Linked DNA regions of Homo sapiens: region 1 is linked to region 2. A link means that fine-mapping ties the variant in region 2 to the expression of a gene that starts in the linked region. Tissue or cell type: whole blood. Region 2 holds a variant in brackets; the other region holds the start of a gene. All regions are shown on one strand. Distances are between the middles of the regions.

The links. PIP is the estimated chance that this variant, and not a neighbour inherited with it, causes the effect.
Region 1: it holds the start of ZBTB46-AS2, and the variant in region 2 is fine-mapped to the expression of ZBTB46-AS2 in whole blood (TOPMed, PIP above 0.99).

What each region holds. Positions count from the first base shown.
Region 1 is chr20:63,740,735-63,749,217 of GRCh38, reverse strand. ZBTB46-AS2 (ZBTB46 antisense RNA 2) reads right to left here and starts at 5,393. Exons shown (of 3, transcript NR_186425.1): 1 at 4,490-5,393; 2 at 3,543-3,690; 3 at 3,267-3,395. It overlaps SLC2A4RG (SLC2A4 regulator), which reads right to left. Exons shown (of 8, transcript NM_020062.4): 3 at 7,739-7,848; 4 at 7,162-7,349; 5 at 6,988-7,088; 6 at 6,603-6,882; 7 at 6,428-6,519; 8 at 5,168-6,339. The coding sequence ends at 6,228. ZBTB46 (zinc finger and BTB domain containing 46) reads left to right here. Exons shown (of 5, transcript NM_001369741.1): 5 at 1,917-5,548. The coding sequence ends at 2,288. RefSeq lists a silencer at 8,325-8,483.
Region 2 is chr20:63,703,187-63,713,700 of GRCh38, reverse strand. ARFRP1 (ARF related protein 1) reads left to right here and starts at 5,725. Exons shown (of 8, transcript NM_001267547.3): 1 at 5,725-5,834; 2 at 6,604-6,702; 3 at 6,963-7,050; 4 at 7,262-7,344. The coding sequence starts at 6,610. ZGPAT (zinc finger CCCH-type and G-patch domain containing) reads right to left here and starts at 5,662. Exons shown (of 7, transcript NM_181485.3): 1 at 5,583-5,662; 2 at 4,537-5,148. The coding sequence starts at 5,120. RefSeq lists silencers at 5,390-5,549, 5,590-5,649, 6,070-6,309, 6,400-6,449 and enhancers at 4,777-5,737, 6,600-6,659. The variant GGCACGT/T (reference allele first, on the strand shown) is at 5,222.

The DNA.
Region 1 (8,483 bases), 37 kb before region 2:
AAAGCCACCAGCTGCCCCTGAAGGTCTCACATCCCTGGACAGCGCCCATCCCGGTCCAGGCTTAGAGCTCACACAGTTGCTCTGGAAGCAGACATTTGAGAAGTGAGGTCTTTATGGTTCCCGGCTTTGTGGAAGAAGTTACAGGCACCTCTGCCCTCAAGGAAGCGGGTCTAGAAGGGGAGGTCGGGCCGTGCTGGGTGGCCTGTCGGCCTGTGGATTCGGAACACTGAGGCAGGAAGTACGTAAGGGCCCGGGTCCAGCCCCAGGATGGGGAGGTGGTAGCTGTGGTGCCTGCCCGTCAGAGGTCTTTGCAAGTGTAGCAGGACCGTCTTCCGCCATGACACACATTGATTATGTATGTACTTGCTCATGGGAGAAAACTGGTGAGTTTGGAATGGTTTAAGGAAGAGCTAAACTCACAAGCACATCCCAGCCTCAGTTCTCCGTGCAGCCTCAGAGGTGCTGCAGGCCCCGGGAGACAGCCCTGTGGATGGAGGGAGGAGCCGAGGGGAGCCTGGGGTCATTGCCGGGTTCAGCCTGGAGGACTGACCTGAGGCCAGCCCACCTCAGAGAAGCCCCTCGTGTGGACTTGGCCAGGGGCCAGGGGTTGCTATTGGGGTCCTCTGTGGGTCCTGCCCTCTCGGTCCTTGGAGGGCAGAGACAGGGGCTGTGCTGTGAGGGATCAGGGCCAGCCCCCCAAGGCCTCCTCTAGCTGGCGTGGCCGAGGGTGCCCGTGAGTGGGTACAAGGGCCACCTCTCCCCATCCCTGGCCATGTCTGAGGTCTGGTTCTGCACAGCACAGGTGTCCACACCCACCCTCAGCGGAAGCCCACCTGGGGCCACATGTCCCCAGCAGTGTGTGGTAGTTCCCTCAGGCCTTGAGGCCAGTGCTGAGACCCTCCAGGAACCCAGCACCTCGCGTCCTGCCACATGGGCCCTCTTCAGGGTGCTGCCCCATCTCCCTGCCGGGCCCAGCACAGGGCACAGCACGACTGCCCTCCCTGGCAGCCACACCTCCTCCTCTGACCATAAGTGCTCATCTCTCTTCTTGCATGTCTCAGTCGACCTTGAAACAGCCTGAGAGTGGGGGAGTTGCCTCCTTTACACGTTCCTGGAGTCAGGGTCGGGCTGAGGGGTCAGGGACTGAGGGGGTCAGGGGCTGAGGGGGTGTCCACGCAGCCAGGCTGAGGTGTGGGCCCACCTGCCCGGCTGGCAGCCCCAACCCCGGCCCGTCCCTGTACGGCTGGGTACAGGAAGAGCTCTGTGAGCTCCAGTCCAATGCGGGGCCCTCAGCCTGTCCTGCAGGGAGGTTTGGAGGAAGCCAGGCTTTTAGGCAGAGGCCGGTGGTGTGACCCCCGTGAGAAGTGTGTCAACCCAGGGGGCCTCTGGTGGGGGTGCTTGGACACACAGTGTAGACGCTGAGACTGGCCCACCTAGGGGCTGGGTTTGCGGGGGAGGGGCACTGCCGCCCTCGTGCCAGCATCCCCTTGGGACAGGGCTGCCTTGGTGCCACCTGCAGTTCTGCTGTGTGGCTCTGATAGGAGCTGGGGCTCAAGGTCTGAGCACTCCTGTCTGCGCACCTCCCCCACCAGGAGTCTCTGCCTGTGCAGACACTCGGAGGGCCCGGGAGGCTGTGCCCCCCCAACCCCAACCGGGCCCTGCTCACCCCCGCACCCCCCCCACCCACCAGGCCCTGCTCACCCCCTGGCCCCCCTCCCAACCTCCACCGGGCCCTGCTCACCCCCTGCCCCGCCCCCCCCACCTCCACCAGGCCCTGCTCACCCCCTGCCCCCTCTTCCAACCTCCACCTGGCCCTGCTCACCACCTGCCCCCCCCACCTCCACCAGGCCCTGCTCACCCCCTGCCCCGCCCCCCAACCCACCAGGCCCTGCTCACCCCCTGCCCTGCCTCTGCAGGTCCACAGCAAGGACAAGAAGTATGTGTGCAAGGTGTGCAGCCGCGTCTTCATGTCCGCCGCCAGCGTGGGCATCAGGCATGGCTCCAGGCGCCACGGTGTGTGCACCGACTGTGCTGGCCGCGGCATGGCCGGGCCCCTGGACCATGGCGGCGGAGGCGGCGAGGGCTCTCCAGAGGCGCTGTTCCCAGGCGACGGGCCCTATCTGGAGGACCCTGAGGACCCACGAGGGGAGGCGGAGGAGCTGGGCGAGGACGACGAGGGCCTGGCCCCTGAGGATGCGCTGTTGGCGGACGACAAGGATGAGGAAGACTCGCCGCGGCCGCGCAGCCCCCCAGGAGGCCCTGACAAGGACTTCGCCTGGCTCTCCTAGGCCCGCCCGCCGGCAGGGTCGGTGGCTGCCTCGCTCCGTCCACCCGTGTGTGTGTCCGGTGGGTCTCCACTGCGGGGCCAGGGCCACGCTCACCCCTCTCGCGGCCCCTCCTCTGCTTCCCCCTGAACCCACCCCCCACGGAAACCAGCCCTGCGGGCTAAGCAGGTGCGACCCCAGCAAGAGGGGTGCTCTGGGACCAGACATGAAGTGAGTTGGGGGAGGGCACAGGGTGGGTTTGAGTGAAGGGAGAGCACGGTCCTAAGTCCCCAGCAGGTGGTGCGGGTGTGTGAGTGGCCCCTGTGATGGCCAGCCTGGCTTGGACACGTGATGGGCCTGTGGCCGGGTCCAGTGGGCACTGGGCGGGGTGGTGTGTTCGGCCCAGAGGCCCCTGGCCTGAGCAGGTGCAGAGTTTTACAGACACCCGGTCAGCCCGGCTGGAGCCCGCCCTCCCCTCCCCTAGCAGCCAGGTCACTGCCTGTGGCTGCAGCCGTGGCCCGTGGTGCAGCCGTGGCCCATGGCAGCCTGTAGAATCCAGGTGCACAGAGAGCCCTGCCACCGTCTTACCTCTGGGCTTTGGTGCTTAACACACAACACAGCTGCAGACCCTGCTGGAGGCCGAGGGCTCCAGGTGCTATCTTAGGTGGACACAGCCCTGGGGGCTCCTTCCAGGAGGGGACCCTCAGCCCTGTGCCCCCCACCACTTCAGGCCACACCAGGTTCCCTCTGCAAGGGCCTCGGCTCAGTCGTGTGCACTTCCTCGGAGAGCCTTGGGCTGCCACGTCCACCCCGGGCTCTGCCCGTCCTGTTCTGCCCATGGCCCAGCCCGGCCGCTCCTGCTGACCCCTCCTGGACGGGCTGGAGCTGGGCTCCTGCCTTTGCTGCTAACACTGGAGGCGGTGTTCCTAACTGCAGTGTGCTGCTTACACCTCCCCGCGTGGGTAACCAAATTTTTAAGTAGTCAGAGACATATCGAGGTAGTTACATAAAATTATTTTGTTTGGCATTATTTTTCTCACTCGAAGAAACTATATAGGGTTGTTTTTCCTTTAGCTTGTGCTCAAGTCCTCTTGCTGTGTTTTCAGAAGCACTCACATGTTCTTTCTTTTCCTGAGTGAAAAGCAAAGGTCCCACGGTGTGTGCTGTGGTGCACCGCCTGGCTTTGGGGGTCCCGGAGGCAGGCTGCCTAGACTCACAGCCTCGGGACCGTTGCCACGGCCTGTCTTCTCGTTCAGGCCTGCCTCTGACAGCACTCACCATGAGGACATTCCATCCTTCACCCCCTCCTCTGGCACAGGCCACCACTGCGGTGCTGTGCCTTCAGATGGGAGGTGGGCGCGGTGGCCTCCTCCTTCCCTCCAGGACCTGCCCGTGTGAAGACCCCCCGGAGTGCTGAGCTTCAGGGCTGCGTGGAAAGAGTTTTTACTCTCTTTTTCTAGCCTGTATACCAGGCTTTTCCCCACATTGTCAGGTAGAGCACCAGCTTCCCTGACCGCTGCTGCTCGGGGAGGGCTGGGGCTGGCCGGGGGTCCTGTGGAGGAGTACATGGAGGACTCCAGGTACAGCGCAGGAGTCACGGCTTTTGTTTTTTGACATTGGCCCCCGGTTCTACCAATGACAGGGTGCCCTGGCTGGAGCTGTCATCACACACACCCCTCAGCTCGGAGGCTGTGGGCTCCTCAAAGCTGGAGAAAGAGGCCAAGATTTTTCTGCACACGGAGTGTGGGGATAGGAGCCGGGCCAAGCGCTGGCCCCTCAGCGGTGAGCCCTGCCCACTCTTACCGAGCAAGGTGGGTGGCTCTGGCACGAGTCCCCCAGGGGGAGAGCATGGCTACCAGGGAGCTGCAGCGGAGCCCTCCAGCCCTCACCCCAGGCCAGCCCCACCCCGGCCTCTTTGAGAATTCTCAGAACTTTGTACCTTTCCCCTGATTTTTAAACCCTTTTTCTAAACAGACTGACTTTCTTACAAAATGCATTTGGAAACCAGACCTTTGCTACCCACCAATGTCTCTGGGTTTTGTACCAGTCCCTGCTCTCAGGCCACCCTGCCCAGGACCCAGGCCCGCCTCCCCCTCCACACTCAGGATGTCCTGCTCCATCTGGCCGGCTCACTCCGTGTGGCCTGCCTTTGCTGACCGTTTTGGGGTTCCCCGCCGGAGCTACAGGGGCATTTTCTTCCCTAAAACCAACAGTGTCCCACTGACCTCCCCAAGTGTTTGCTGCGTGGCAGATTTCCTGTTCTTGTTCGCAGTTTGCCGACTGAAGAGTGTGGGATTTCCGAGGCCCAGGTGAGCACGTCCATCTCAGGAGGCGTGGAGGGAAAAGACATGTCATGAAGGGTTTTTTTTATGTGACTGATTTTTTTTTAAATCGATGTTCAAACTAATAAATATTTTTTTATGAAGAGGAAAAATGTGTAGATTACATTTCACATTTTGTATTTTTGTTTGTGTCTGTTTGTATTTTGGTGTTTACAACACCAAAGTGGGAAATACAGTCCATTGGGGATGGTGTTATTTGGGGGCGGGGAGGGGGCAGGGACACCACGATTTTTCTGTCAAGCTCTGGATCCTGACCAGGTTGTACACTGGGGCTCTCTGAGCTTTGGGACACAGGACACTGCCAGGGCTACGTAGGGAACTGACTCAGAAGACGCAGCTTACTGCTTCCAACTTTGCACATCTTCCTCTTTAAAAAACTGAGAAAATGCAAAAACTGGAACTTTTTGCAATATTATAAAAGAAGTAATCTTATTTTAGCTCATTCTGTGACATGTGCGACTCTTAAGAAAGCCATACTTAATGGTGGTGGTTTTTTTTAGATCTTATATTGTGTTTTGTATGCAGCCCTTTTAGAACTACTTGTAGTGAGGGTGCTGTGTGTGCTTTTCTTAAATATTTATTTTTTTCAACATGCTTTCAACCTGTCAACAAAAACAAAACACACAAAAAAAGGGCAGTGTTTGAAGATTGTTGATTTTTTTCTGGGGATAATCTATATTATATTGACTTCCTATTACTTATTATAAACCTGTGTTTGTATTGGAGATGTGTCTACTATTGGGGGAAGAGGTTCTCGTAATCGCTCGGTGGGAAATCATGGCTCTGCCGTCCTGCCTCTCTGTGGCCGTGGGTTCACGTGGCCTCTGCGGTGAGTCTCCAAGTTTCTGCCTAGGCGCCTGTGCGTTTCCTTTCTGTGACGGGATTAGCTTAGACATCCTTGCAAAGCGATCACTTTCAATAAATTGGGAAATTGCTGCTCCAGCAGATGCCTCCTGCGTCTCAGATGATCCTTCCTCCGGCCTCGCCTGGGGTGGCGGCGGCCGACGGGTGACCCTCGGCCCTCTGTGGGCAGCTGCCAGACTCCACCCACTTGCCCACCACAGGGTCCCAGCCCCACGGCCTTCCTCCCGAGAGGCAGACAAAGCTTCTGGAAAAACCTCAAATCTTTAATTTCTCTCTTCGCCTGGTGCAGCCCAGACGTGAGACACCTGAGCTTCAAAAACAAACATGGTAAAAACAGCCCCAGGGCCCGAGAGCCGTTGAGTTAAGTGCGAGTGGGGGAGTCCCCTCTCCAACACCCCTCAAAGTGCATCGGGACTGGCCCCCCAAAGCTGGGCCCATAACACCCTTGATAAATCTACGGGCCGACAGGCGGGAGGGTGGCTGCCCCCAGGGCCCTTGGGGCTAAGGGGACAGCGGTGTGGTTTGGCTTTAGTGCAAAAAGCTGGTTTCTTTAGAGGCACTTTGAGTGGTGGGACCCCTCCCCGACCTGGCGGGGGGGAGGGTTCAGGGTCAGCCCCGCCCCCCCACCCCAAGTAAAAGCAGACCCTGCAGCTGGTGAAAGCCAGCCCCTGGGGCTGTCCTCGGGCTGTTTCAGCCCCGGGCCTGGAGGGGGTGGGGAGGGAGAAGGTGGTAGCTTATGTTCTTGAACGAGCCGGACTTAGTCCAGGAACCGCTGGCAGGCTTTCTTCCAGCGGCAGGCTGTGCACCAGAGGTCCCGGCGCTCCATGCCATACACCTTCCGGCACTTCTTCGCGTCGCCGCGGGGCTTCCTGTGCGGGGGGTCACAGGACATGGGGTGCTGTGAGACCAGGACCCTCCCCACCTGGTGCCAGCCGCAGGCCCTCAGCCCACACGCACCTCAGGGTGACTCCGATCCTGGAGGACAAGGCGGGTGGGCAGGCTCCGACCTCCGTGGGCTGCGGCTCCAGGCGGGCGGGCGTCAGGCAGCCCTACAGGGAGACACAGCCAGGGCTTCACTCCCCTCCAGAGAGCCCTGAGACCCGCCCCAGCTGCCACCCGTGGCCTCACCCACCTGGTAGACACGGTCACTGTGACAGGACTGGGGGTTAGCAACGGTGCTCAGGACAGGGGGCGGGGGCAGGGGCGGGGCAGGCGGCCGCAGGGGACTAGGCAGGGCTGGGGGCTCCAGCAGCTCTGGCAGCTCCAGGCGGGGGAAGGCAGGCGGCATGGAGGCCGTGGGGGACACTGGAGTCAGGCTGGACAGCCCGTCGGTCAGCGTGTCCACACCAACATCCAGCTCTGTGTAGTAGAAGTCCTCCTCACCATCACTCTGCTCAGGCTCTGCCTGCCTCCTGCGGGAGACACAGCCAGCCAGTGGGAGCTGAAGGGGTGGCCTGGCCGGGCCTCACAACCCCAGCCAACCCGCAGGCCCCGCCGCACCCCAGGCCCCGCCGCACCCCAGGTGCACCAGGCGGATGTGTCTCTGCATCGCCGACGCCGTGCTCAGCACCTTCCCGCAGCTCTTCCACAGACACTGGAACATGACCTGGGCCGGGCTCTGCAGCAACAGGGGCCAGGGTCAGGCTCAGCCGCCACACCCGCCCCTCCCTGGGGGCCGCCCCCAAGCTCACCTTCCTTTTTCTCAGGGTGGGCTCCCCAAACAGAAAGTGGGCTGCCTCGGGGGGCAGTGGGGGTGACGGGGTGGACGGAGAGGACTGGTCACTGGCCAGGTCCCATCCCCAGTCTCCACTGTTGCTGCTGCTGCTGTAGCTGCCTGGGGGCCGCACCAGGGCCTCCTTCCAGGGCTCCAGGCCAGGCTCTGTGGGGACACGGGCCCCCCGCCTTAGAACTTCGGGTGGGTCCAGGGAGTCCCTAATCCTGAGCTGCCCCTGTTCACCAAGTCCGGTGAGACTGGTGGGCAGAGCGTCTTGGAGGAGCTGGCCCCAGGGCTTGGGGAGAAACCCCCCCGGCACAGGAAAGGGTTGGCAGACGTGTGTGGCCAGCCGCGTGGAGGTGAGCAGGTCAGGGAGGCCAGAAGGCCTGGGTCCTGCCGCTTTGGCCTCAGTAGGGGGCACTGAGGGTGCGGGAGTCCATTTTAGAAAGGAGTCCCAGGTTTGAGGGCTCTGCTTGCCCCACAGAGGCTGGGTGGCTGTAGGTTCTGAGCCCTGTCCCCACCCACACCCCTAAATGCAGACATCTGAGTCTTACCTGGGCTGAAGGCTGCAACCGGGGCCCCCAGAAGGAGAGGGCTGGTGGACAGGCTTGTAAGGGCAGCGGCAGCCATGACCTCGTCCAGCCGGGCTTTTCCTGGGGTGGCTCTGGAGGAGATGGGGGCGGGGTGCGGGTGACCCAGCCAGAGCTCTGGGCCCCTCCCCTGGTCGGTCCACGTGCAGGCCTGGGCACGCGTGCACACCAGGCTCCCCACTCCCAGCCCTGGGCATGAGGCCTGGCTCCTCCCCCAGCTCAGGTTGCAGAGAGAGCTGAAAGCCACCCGGAGCCGCCAGGAGCAGGGCCAGGGTCTCCTGAAGCCTGAGTTCTCCACATCGCGGGCTTGGCTCCACTGTGGTTCCTTCAGATACTGGGGCTGGGCAGGGGTCTGAAGCCCTGGCAGAGGGGCGGGCCAGGCCCAGGCCTCCCCCCATCACACATTAACCAGGGTTGTGCAACAGCAGCTGTGGGCCTCACGCCAGGCCTGGGAGGTGGGAGTGGCCAGCAGCCGGCAGCAGCCAGGGGGAGACTGGGCTGGAAGCACGGGCAGCTCCCCAGGCCCCAGCGAGCCAGGCCAGGGCCCGCCCCTGCCCTGGCAGCCAGACCGAGGTGTCCGGCCTGGCAGGGGTTGGGAGGTGGCGGTCAGGAGCCCCAGGGATTCCTGGACAGTCGCCCCATGCCGACCGCGCAGCCTCTTCTGCACAGAGACGCACAGCCACCCGCTCCGGGTTCTGAGCTCTAGCCC
Region 2 (10,514 bases):
CTGGATTTCACCATGTTGGCCAGGCTGGTCTCGAACTCCTGACCACAGGTGATCCACCCGCCTTGGCCTCCCAAAGTGCTGGGATTACAGGCGTGAGCCACGGTGCCCAGCTTGTATTTCTATATACTAGCAACAAACAGCCTGAAAATGTAACTAAGGAAAACAACTCCAGCCGGGCACAGTGGCTCACATCTGTAATCCCAGCACTTTGGGAGGCCGAGGCAGGCAGATCACCTGAGGTCAAGAGTTCGAGACCATCCTGGCTACATGGTGAAACCCCATCTCTACTAAAAATACAAAAAATTAGCTGGGCGTGGTGGCAGGCACCTGTATTCCCAGCGACTCAGGAGGCTGAGGCAGAAGAATGGTGTGAACCCGGGAGGTGGAGCTTGCAGTGAGCCAAGATTGGGCCACTTCACTCCAGCCTGGGCAACAGAGCAAGACTCCATCTCAAAAAAAAAAATTAGCTGGGTGTGGTGGCAGGCACCTGTGATCCCAGCTACTTGGGAGGCTGAGCAGAAGAATTGCTTGAACCCGGGAGGCAGAGGTTGCAGTGAGCCAAGATTGTGCCATTGCACTCCAGCCTGGGTGACAGAGCAAGACTCTGTCTCAAAAAAAAAAGGAAAAGAAAAACAATTCCTTAGAGAAGCATCAAAAATAATACTTATTTAACCAAGAATGTGCAAGACTTGAACAGTACAAAATACTGTTGAAAGAAATTAAAGACGTAAATAAATGGACAGATCCTTCATTCATGAATTGGAAGACTTAATACTGTTTTTTTCTTCTGTTATTGTTGTTGTTTAAGATGGAGTCTCCCTCTGTTACCCAGGCTGGAGTGCAGTGGCATGATCTCAGCTCACTGCAACCTCCTCCTCCCAGGTTCAAGCGATTCTCCTGCCTCACCCTCTCGTGTAGCTGGGATTACAGGTGTGCACCACCTCCGACTAATTTGTTTTTTATTTTTAGTAGAGACGGGGTTTCACCACGTTGGCCAGGCTGGTCTTGAACTCCTGACCTCAAGTGATATGCCCGCCTCAGCCTCCCAAAGTACTGGGATTACAGGCGTCAGCCACCACACCCAGCCAGAAGGCTTAATATTGTAAAGATGACAATGTGCCCCAAACAGATCTACACATTCTATGCAATCCATATCAAAATTCAAACTGTCTTTTATGCAGAATTGGACAAGCCGATCCTAAAATTCATATGAAATTGCAAAGGATCCAGAAACAAAACAAACTTGAAAAAGAGGAGCAAATGGTGAATAACTACCACTTCCTGAGTTTAAAACTTATCACAAAGCTATAATAATCAGAACAGTGTGGTACTGGCACATATACACCAATGGAACAGGAGAGAGAGCTCAGAAATAAACCCTTACATATATTGCCAATTGATTTTGGACAAAAGTGCCAAGACCATTCAGTGGAGAAAAAGCAGTCTTTTAAACAAATGGTGCTGGGAAAACTGGAAATCCACATGCAAAAGAATAAAGTGGACCCTCACCTAATAACATATACAAAAATTAACTCAAAATGGATCAAAGACCTAAATTTAACAGCTAAAACTACAGAACTCTTAGAAGAAAACATAGGTGAAAATCCTCATAACTATGGATGAGGTGGTTTCTTAAACCTGATGACAAAAACATAGGCAATAAAGAAACAATAAATTGCACTGCATCAAAATTTAAAATGTTTGTGCATCAAAGGACACTATATCAAGTGAAAAGACAACCCAAACAATGGGAGCAAATATCTGCAAACTATATACTTCATAAGGGATGATATCCAGAATATATAAAGAAATCCTGGGCCGGGTGTGGTGGCTCATGCCTGTAATCCCAGCACTTTGGGAAACCAAGGCGGGATCACCTGAGGTCAAGAGTTCGAGACCAGCCTGGCCAACATGGTGAAACCCTGCCTCTACTAAAAATATAAAAATTAGCTGGGCACCACGTGGTGACAGGCGCCTGTAATCCCAGCTACTTGGGAGGCTGAGGCAGGAGAATCCCTTGAACCCAGGAGGTGGAGGTCATGCCATTGTACTCTAGCCTGGGCAACAACAGTGAAACTCCATCTTAAAAAAAAAAAAAAGGTCCAACGCAAATCCAAGAGAACTTATCAGTCCTGAATGGTGGCAAGGTGGACGTCTGTAAGATGCTCCGGAAGCTTTCAGATCAGGCCTGATGCCGACATGGCAAGCAGCACTGGGTGGAGCAGGGGACGGAACGAGGGCTGGGGGCAACCGGAGCCCTCTGAGCCTTGAAGCCCTGGACCACTCAGTTCTTCTACTCCTGTTTCCTCCTCTGTCAGATGGTGTGACTGCAGGGCCTACCTACAGGGCTGTTGCACAGATGAATGAAAGTATATGAAACCCTTGGAGCAGTGCCTGGCCCAGAGGGAGCACCACAGGGATGTGTCAGATCTCTCATCAAAGGGATCAGGAATTCGAGACCTGGGTAATATGGTGAAATCCCGTCTCTACAAAAAATACAAAAATTAGCTGGGCGTGGCAGTGCACACTTGTAGTATCAGCTATTAGGGAGGCTGAGGTGGGAGGATGGCTTGGGCCAGGGAGGCGGAGATTGCAGTGAGCCGAGATTGTGCCACTGCACTCCAGCCTGGGTGACAGAGCAGCAAGACGCTGTTTCAAAAAAAAAAAAAAAAGGAAGACATTCAAAGAACTAGAACTAGAACTAGGGATGGTTACACGGTCAGCCTGAACTATTGGCTAAAAAAGAAAATTACCTACTAGAAGGCTTGGTAAATATTTCTTCTAAGAGAAAAGTAAAAAGGAGGAAAAATAAAGCTATGCGCTTAGGGAAATAGAGACATTACAGTAATAATTGTTCATATTTGAATATGGAAGAGGTATTACCATTAAATGTGTTACCTATTATGACACAGAAGTTACTCTTTTTTGTCCTCACATCGGACTTGGACTTCCAAAAAGTTACTTTTTAAGTAATTTCCTAATCAGTTAGATTAGAGATGCAACTATGAAGTATTCATAATTGGAAAAAACCAGTAACTTCTGGAATTTGCTTTAAAATGGCCCAGGAAAGAAAAAAATAGGGCAGGGAGAACAGACAAAATGAGACTGGGAAAATATTAATAAATGACGACATTGGATGATGGACCGTGGGCGGTGATTATGCTAAACTCTCTAATTTGGGGTATGTTTGAAAATCTCCATGAAAGTAAAATTTAAAAGTTGAACTCTAGAGAATAAAACTAACAACAGGGCCAGGCGCAGTGGCTCACGCCTGTGATCCCAGCACTTTGGGAGGCCAAGGTGGGTGGATCACGAGGTCAGGAGTTCAAGACCAGCCTGGCCAAGATGGTGAATCTCCGACTCTACTAAAAATACAAAAAATTAGCCCAGTGTGGTGGCGGGCGCCTGTAATGCCAGCTACTCTGGACGCTGAGGTAGAGAATTACTTCAACCCGGGAGACAGAGGTTGCGGTAAGCTGAGATTGCGCCACTACACTCCAGCCTGGGTGAGGAGAGTGAAACTCTGTCTCCAAAAAAAAAAGGCCAGGCGCGGTGGCTCACGCTTGTCATCCCAGCACTTTGGGAGGCCAAGGTGGGCGGATCACGAGGTCAGGAGATTGAGACCATCCTGGCTAACATGGTGAAACCCCGTCTCTACTAAAAATACAGAAAATTAGCCAGACATGGTGGCGGGCGCCTGTAGTCCCAGCTACTCGGGAGGCTGAGGCAGGAGAATGGCGTGAACCCGGGAGGCGGAGCTTGCAGTGAGCCGAGATCACGCCACTGCACTCCAGCCTGGGCAACAGAACAAGACTCCATCTCAAAAAAAAGATAAAAAATTATAGTAATATAAAAATTAGCTGGGTGTAGTAGCGTGAGTCTGTAGCCCAGCTCCTAGGGGGGCTGAGGCAGGAGGATCGGTTGAGCCCAGGAGGTCCAGGCTGCAGTGAGCCAGGACTATGCCACTGCACTCCAGCCTGGTTGACAAAGTAAGACCCTGTCTCAAAAAAAATTAAAACAACCACCAAAAAAAAACTGACGATAGGCTGGAGACCTACTCTCTTCCACATAAGCCTTGCACTGCTGCTCGGGCTGCAGTACAGTGGCTGCATCTCCACTCACTGCAAACTCGGCCTCCTGGGTTCAACCAATTCTCCTGCCTCAGCCTCCTGAGTAGCCAGGACCACAGGTGCGCGCCACCACGACCGGTTCATTTTTGTGTTTTTAAGGAGATGGGGTTTCACCATGTTGACCAGCGTGGTCTTGAACTCCTGACCTCAGGTGATCTGCCCGCCTCGGCTTCCTAAAGTGCTGGGATTACAGGCGTGAGCCACCGCGCCTGGCCTCCTTCCATGCTTCTTGATTCACCCCAGAAGGAAGACGTAGACGCCTGAACACAGACACAGCTGTCAAAGCACGCCTGCCCCAGGAAGCTGAGACAAAACTGCAAAGCAAAGGGAGGGCCGATCCTGACCCGACCCTGTGTGCGTGCCCCTTACGCCCCTAAGGTTGGCATCTGACAACAAAGGGCTTTACCTGCAGTTCTCCTTAAAGCGGCACTTTCCCTCCAGGAAGAACGGGCACGGCTTCAGAGACTTGTGAGTGGGGTACAGGTAAAGCACACGGACACCCGCCGAGCCATCCTCCGCCTCTTCCGTTCCCACCACCATGGCGTTGTGATACTCCAGAGTGCCCCAGGAGCTGTAGTAGGGCGCGCTCACCTTTGTCCCACTCAGCTCTTCCTCGTCCTCTCCCTCTTCCTCCTCCTGCCCACCTGCCGCAGATTCTGGCCCCGCCTCTGCTTTAGGAACGGTCTCTGATCCGGACCCACGGGCCGCTGCTGGTGCCTCCACCGCCTCAGTGATGGCCTCCCGGAAAGCCTGGTACTCAGCATCTTCCTGGCGGCCCGGGCGCTCTTCGTCCAGCGCGGCCAACAAGCTGCTCTTCCTGACAGACACCAGGCTGGCCTCGGTGAGCTCGATGAGCTCCTTCAGGTCCCCCTGCAGCTGGCGCAGGTCAGCCTGCTCAGACGAATCCAGGCCGGCGCCCAAGGCCAGCTCCACCTGCTGCAGCTGCGCACGGTAGGTCTGCAAGGCCGACTCCAGGCTCTCCTCGTCCATGCTGAGAGAGGGAGGCGCTGGACCAGGGCTGCAAGAAGAGAAGCCAGCTGAGCCCCGCGTCTCGGGACCGACCCCACAGCCTGAGGGCGGGCACGGGCACG[GGCACGT/T]CCCCTTTCCCTCGGGGAGACACCGGCTCAGAGGCACAGCTCCCAGCGCAGAGGTCGCAGCCCGGGTACCCCCGCTCAGGCTCCGCGCTTCCCTTCCGAGCCGCCGTGGGCTCGCCGCTAGCCGGGTCCCGCGTCACTCCGGAGCCCCTTCCCCGCGGGGCGCCCCGCCGCCTCACCCTCCGCCGAGCCCACCCGCCGCGCCCGCCGCCTTCCAGGCCGGCCGCGCCCCCCCGCCCGGCGTCTCTTCTGTCTGGCCAGGGCCGCGTCCCCGCAAACCGCGGCCACCTGGTCCCCGGCCGGGCACCTCCTCCGCGCGGTTTCCCAGCCGCAGCCACAGAGAGCCCGCCGGCCTCACCGGCTAGAGCGGCCCGGCGCCCCCTTTTCGCCCCAGCAGCCGATCGGCACTTCCTCCCGAGCGCCGCCGCTTCCGGAAGTGCTTGGCGCGCGGGGGCAGCCGGGAAGCGGAGCGCGGAGGCCGCTGGGACGCGGTTCAGCTCATTCCCTGAGGCCGGCCCGCGTCCCGTCAGGCGCCGCGCGGGGTTAGCGCGGGGTCAGCGGAGGTCAGCGGGGGTCAGCAGCAGCGGCTCCGAGGGCGCGGCGGACGCAGGTAGGCCGCAGGCTGTGCGGTGAGGCGCGAGGCCCGAGGGGCGGCCCAGGACTCGAGGTGGGACGCGGGTGTGACAGGAGCCAGCTTTGGCTGCTTGTCGGGGAGCCTCAGACCTGGCGGCGGCGGCTTGGGGCGGACGTAGCCGGGGGCCGCGACCCAGGTTCTTCCTTCGCAGTCGTTCCCTGCCAGCCGCGCGCCGCCTCCAGGTGCACTCCAGGAGCAGCCGCGCCGCTGCTCACCCGCCCTGTAGTCCGCTCCCCCCAGGGCCGTCCCCGTTTTAAGAAATGGGGTGATGGGGCGTCCCTACCCGGCGCCTGCAGGGGCTCCTGGGGAGCGCGCCGGTGGCTCGCTGCTCCCGGGTGGGGCGCGGGGCTGGCGCTCGAGGGTGCCGTGGCCCAGGCGGGGCTGCAGCGAGTGTGTTCCCCGTTCCGCGCGCGTGAAGCGTGGGAGCGAAGCCTCGGGGGAGGGCGGGAGCGCGGCTGAGCTCACTGTGAACACCCGGCTGGGTAGTCCCGCGAGCAGGGGAGGGGCCGGAACCGATGTGTATGCGGAGAGGTCGCAGTCATTGCTGTGAGCAGGACACAGTGGCGGCTGACCTGGGAGAAGTTACAGAGGGACGGGGTGGGAGAGGGACGAGGAGTCGGGAATGGCCCCCAGGCTCTCGTCCTGAGCGGTCGGCTGGACGTGGGGCGCCACTGACCACCGTGGAGAAGCCCGGGGGAGGGGAGGTGCTTTCTGGCTGCACACTGACCTATGTTGGGGTGCCCAGGGCAGGATGTACACGCTGCTGTCGGGCTTGTACAAGTACATGTTTCAGAAGGACGAGTACTGCATCCTGATCCTGGGCCTGGACAATGCTGGGAAGACGGTGAGTGCCCACGCCCTTGCGCGCACCTTTCCCACGGCCTGGCGGCGCCCCCTTCGGTTTTGTGCTGTCAGCTGCACGTTCACTACCCAGACGGAAGCCAAATTTCACCTGAGACGGCAGGATAGTCACCACCAGCCTCCTGAAGAGCAGAGTGTTGCTCTGTTTCTGTTTCTGTCTTTTAAAGAACAGACCTGAGTAAGGATATTTGGAAGCCAGTATAGCCCCTCCTTGATGTGTTTCGCCTCTGCCTCTCTCCTCAGACCTTCCTGGAGCAGTCGAAAACCCGATTTAACAAGAACTACAAGGGGATGAGTCTATCCAAAATCACCACCACCGTGGGCCTAAACAGTAAGGGTCTCAATAGCAGGCTGTGGGTTTGGGGCCTTGAGGATGCCGTGATATTCACAGTCCAGCTGGCCCGTGGCCACAGCCCTGTCGGGCCCCTCTCAAGTCTCATTTGAGTGGCACCAGCATGGTTTGCCCCATCCCCTGGGAGAGCTGGGACTGGGTGTGTCGAGGACCAAGGTCATGAGCCTTGCCTGTTTCCTCCTCTCCCCAGTCGGCACTGTGGATGTGGGAAAGGCTCGGCTCATGTTCTGGGACTTAGGAGGGCAGGAAGAGCTGCAGTCTTTGTGGGACAAGGTAAGACTCCCTGGCCAGGACCACCCCCACCCCAGCCCTCCAGTGCCACTTCTTTCCAGAGTGCCCTTTGGGCCCTTCCTCAGCAGTTTTCCTTACCCACTCTGTCCCTCGGGTTTTCTCTCTGGTCCTGTCCCAGGTTCCCGAGTGGCTCCCTGTTTTGTCCCAGCTGAACCCTTAGCTGAAGTTGCCCCAAAAGTGGTGGTAGGGGAGTTTCCCACTTGGGAGTTCCCTGCGATGGGGCCAGTGGAGAATTCCAGGGAAAGAATCACTAAATGCCAAGGCGATCAGATCAGAGCATGTATTAGGGGAACCTGTTGACAGAGTGCGGCATCCTCAGGTGACCAGTGAGAGAAGGGCGTGTTCACTGGTCATGCCTGAAGCCGGGGGGGATCTGGGTTCAGGGCTGGGGCTAGTTTCTTTCAATGTTTTGAAACCTGAACATTATGTTAACAACCTAAACATCTTACAAGTGTCTGGGAATGTTCAAACCCTGGCTTGGGTTTGAGCCTAAGGGCAACCTCGCTGGCCAAGTCAGAGAGGTCAGGGCAGTCTGTTTCTTTCTCAGTCAGGACAAGACAAAGTGTGGGGACCTGGGGACCCTGCACTCCTCCAAAGTGAGTGCCTCCTTTCGGCTCAGAGACCTTGCTGCTGACCACCACAGGACACAGAAATGGCAAAGACCAGATGTGGGGACGGCAGGATGGCTGCCTCTCCCCTGATGAGGTTCCTTCAGTTCTAGCTTAACATTTGTTCTTCCATGATCACCAGAAGACTCCTCAGGGTCTCACAGCGGCAGTCTCCTATTTTGACACAGGTTTTGGGCATTTCTGAGATCCCAGTGTGGTGCCCCTTCCCCACACCCCCAAGGCTGCAGTTTATCTCCTTCTCAGCCTGGGCCAGGCACTGAGTCCAGCACTGAGCAGGGCAGAGCCTGTGGCTTCCTCGGGCTCCCTGCCCTAGGCTGGCACAGTGGGTGTGGGGTGTCCCCAGTGCCTTGGCTGCCCTGATGCCATCTCTAGAGCTGAGTGCCCAGGTCCTGATCTCTTTTTTGATCCTAGTTCCCCTTTCCTAGGCGCCCCCAAAGTGTCCCCTCCTGCTGTGACTTCTAGCCAAGAAGACATTTCTCCCATGGCCAAGTGATCTCTGATAGATCCTGTAGGACCACTGAAGTCAGACAGGACAAGTTGAGTCAGGGCCTGTGTGTCCAGTGCGCAGCATGCTTGGGGAGTGACACAGATGATGATGATCTTGTCACAGGCCGGTGTCTCAGGCACAGATGCTGAGACAGGTCGAGGTACAGGATGCACACTGGGGGTCGGCACCAGGAAGGCAGGGAGGACGGGAGAGGAGAGGTCGACTCAGGCAGCAGGATCCACAGAGCTGTGGTTGGCCCAGCAGGGAGCCCTGGAGGAGAACTGGCTATGCTGTGCCATGTGGGGCCAGGCTGGCCGGGACTTCACACCATGGCCTGGTGGGTCCCCAGTGTGGGCTGCCCTGGGCAGGTGTGACCTGGCAGTGTGGCTCTTTGCAGCCAAAGTGGGTCCCACAGAAACCAAAATGAGACCATCTGCTGGTGCAGTGTTCTCCAACATGAAGCAAGAATACAGTGGGGCCAGAGATGCCTGCACTGGCCACAGCTGCAGCCCTATGTGGACCCACACTTCCACGTTGGAGAGGGGTTCCTCCAAGGTCCTGAGGGCCTCTCTTAAGGCGAAACTGGAAGAGGGAGACTTAAGGGGGCCACTGTAGCCCATCCTTGCTGCTGGTCTTGGGGCTGCACAGCCCTTCCTTGAGTGCCCTCCCAATTCACTACCACTTCTGCTGGGGTGCGACTTCCTGGCAGTCTGAGCCCTTCTCCAGACACCACCGTGGTGGGGCCAGTGGCTCCCTGGGTCCCCAGCTGTGGGACAGCTGTGGGATGGCAGCCCCATCTCCTGCCCACCAGGGTCTCCTAGACATGAGGTGCAAGTCATGCCCATGAGGCAGCTGTGGCTCGTCATTCAGCGTGTCTGCTGAGTATGTGCTGCTCTAGTGGCCGGGACCCCTGACCCTGCTGAGCTCAGAGCTGGGAGGATCAGCTGCAGGGACCCCCCTAGGTCACTGGGAGGGACCGGAAGGGAGGCCCCTGCTCCCACCCTGGTTTCCTGTATCCTGCATCCTTGTGCAGAGCCAGCACCACAGAAAGGGGCGTCATTGCGAATTGGCCTCGTCCTGGGGCTGGACCCTGGGTTGGTGTCCACATGTGTGGCATGTGCCAGGACCTCAGCTCCTGGGTTCTTTGCTGTAACACTAGTCTCTCAGGCTGGCTGGCACTTTGCAGTTGGGGAGCTCCCATTGCTGCTGGGGAGAAAAACTCAGACCCACAGTCCCTCTGACTGCTCCACTGGGGTCAGCTGGCCAGCCAGGAGCCACGCTTGGACACCTCCCTCTTCCCCCTCCTTGTGGGGCACCCCACAATGACCACTGCTGTGACGCCTCCACTGGGGCGTGGGGCTCTGGGTCCTGCCCGCACTCAGCCCTGAGGTGTCGCTCCCGTCCACTGCGGCCCTGCTGGGCTGTGCACCTTGTGCCTGGTAGGTGTGATGGGTGGCTCTGGCCACGTGGTCCCATGGTCCAGGACCCGGTTGCACATGAACCTTCTGCCACCCTGCTCAGAAGCCCCAGGAGCCACGTGGAGATTCTCTCACTGGGCTTGCTGCAGCCTCCACAGAGCCGCCCCTCCTGCCACAGAGGTCTCCACCTTAGGGTCCGCCTGCTCCCTTGTGTCAGCAGCAGACAGCCGGCACACTGCAGGGTCCCTTGAGGGGTTGGCGGCCTCTGTGTGGGACCTGTCTGTAGGCCAGAGAAGTTCCTGGGGGTGGGGGGGCCTCGCTACCTGCAGAACCCTGGAGGGCGCCTGGCCTTGGGCCTCCTCTCCACTGTGGGAAGTTCCTGGGGGTGGGGGGGCCTGGCCTTGGGCCTCCTCCTTTCCACTGTGGGAAGTGCAGGTGCACAGGCTTCTCTCCTCTGTGGGAAGTGCAGGTGCACAAGCTTGTCTGGCACTGGGATGGGGTTGTCTGGTACTCCCTGCTCAGACACCCTAAGGATTTCGGAGAGTTGGGCTGTGCCTCCTGGCTTCTCATGCTCTCGGGTGTGTGTGTCTTAACACACTGACCACCAGCTTGTCCTAC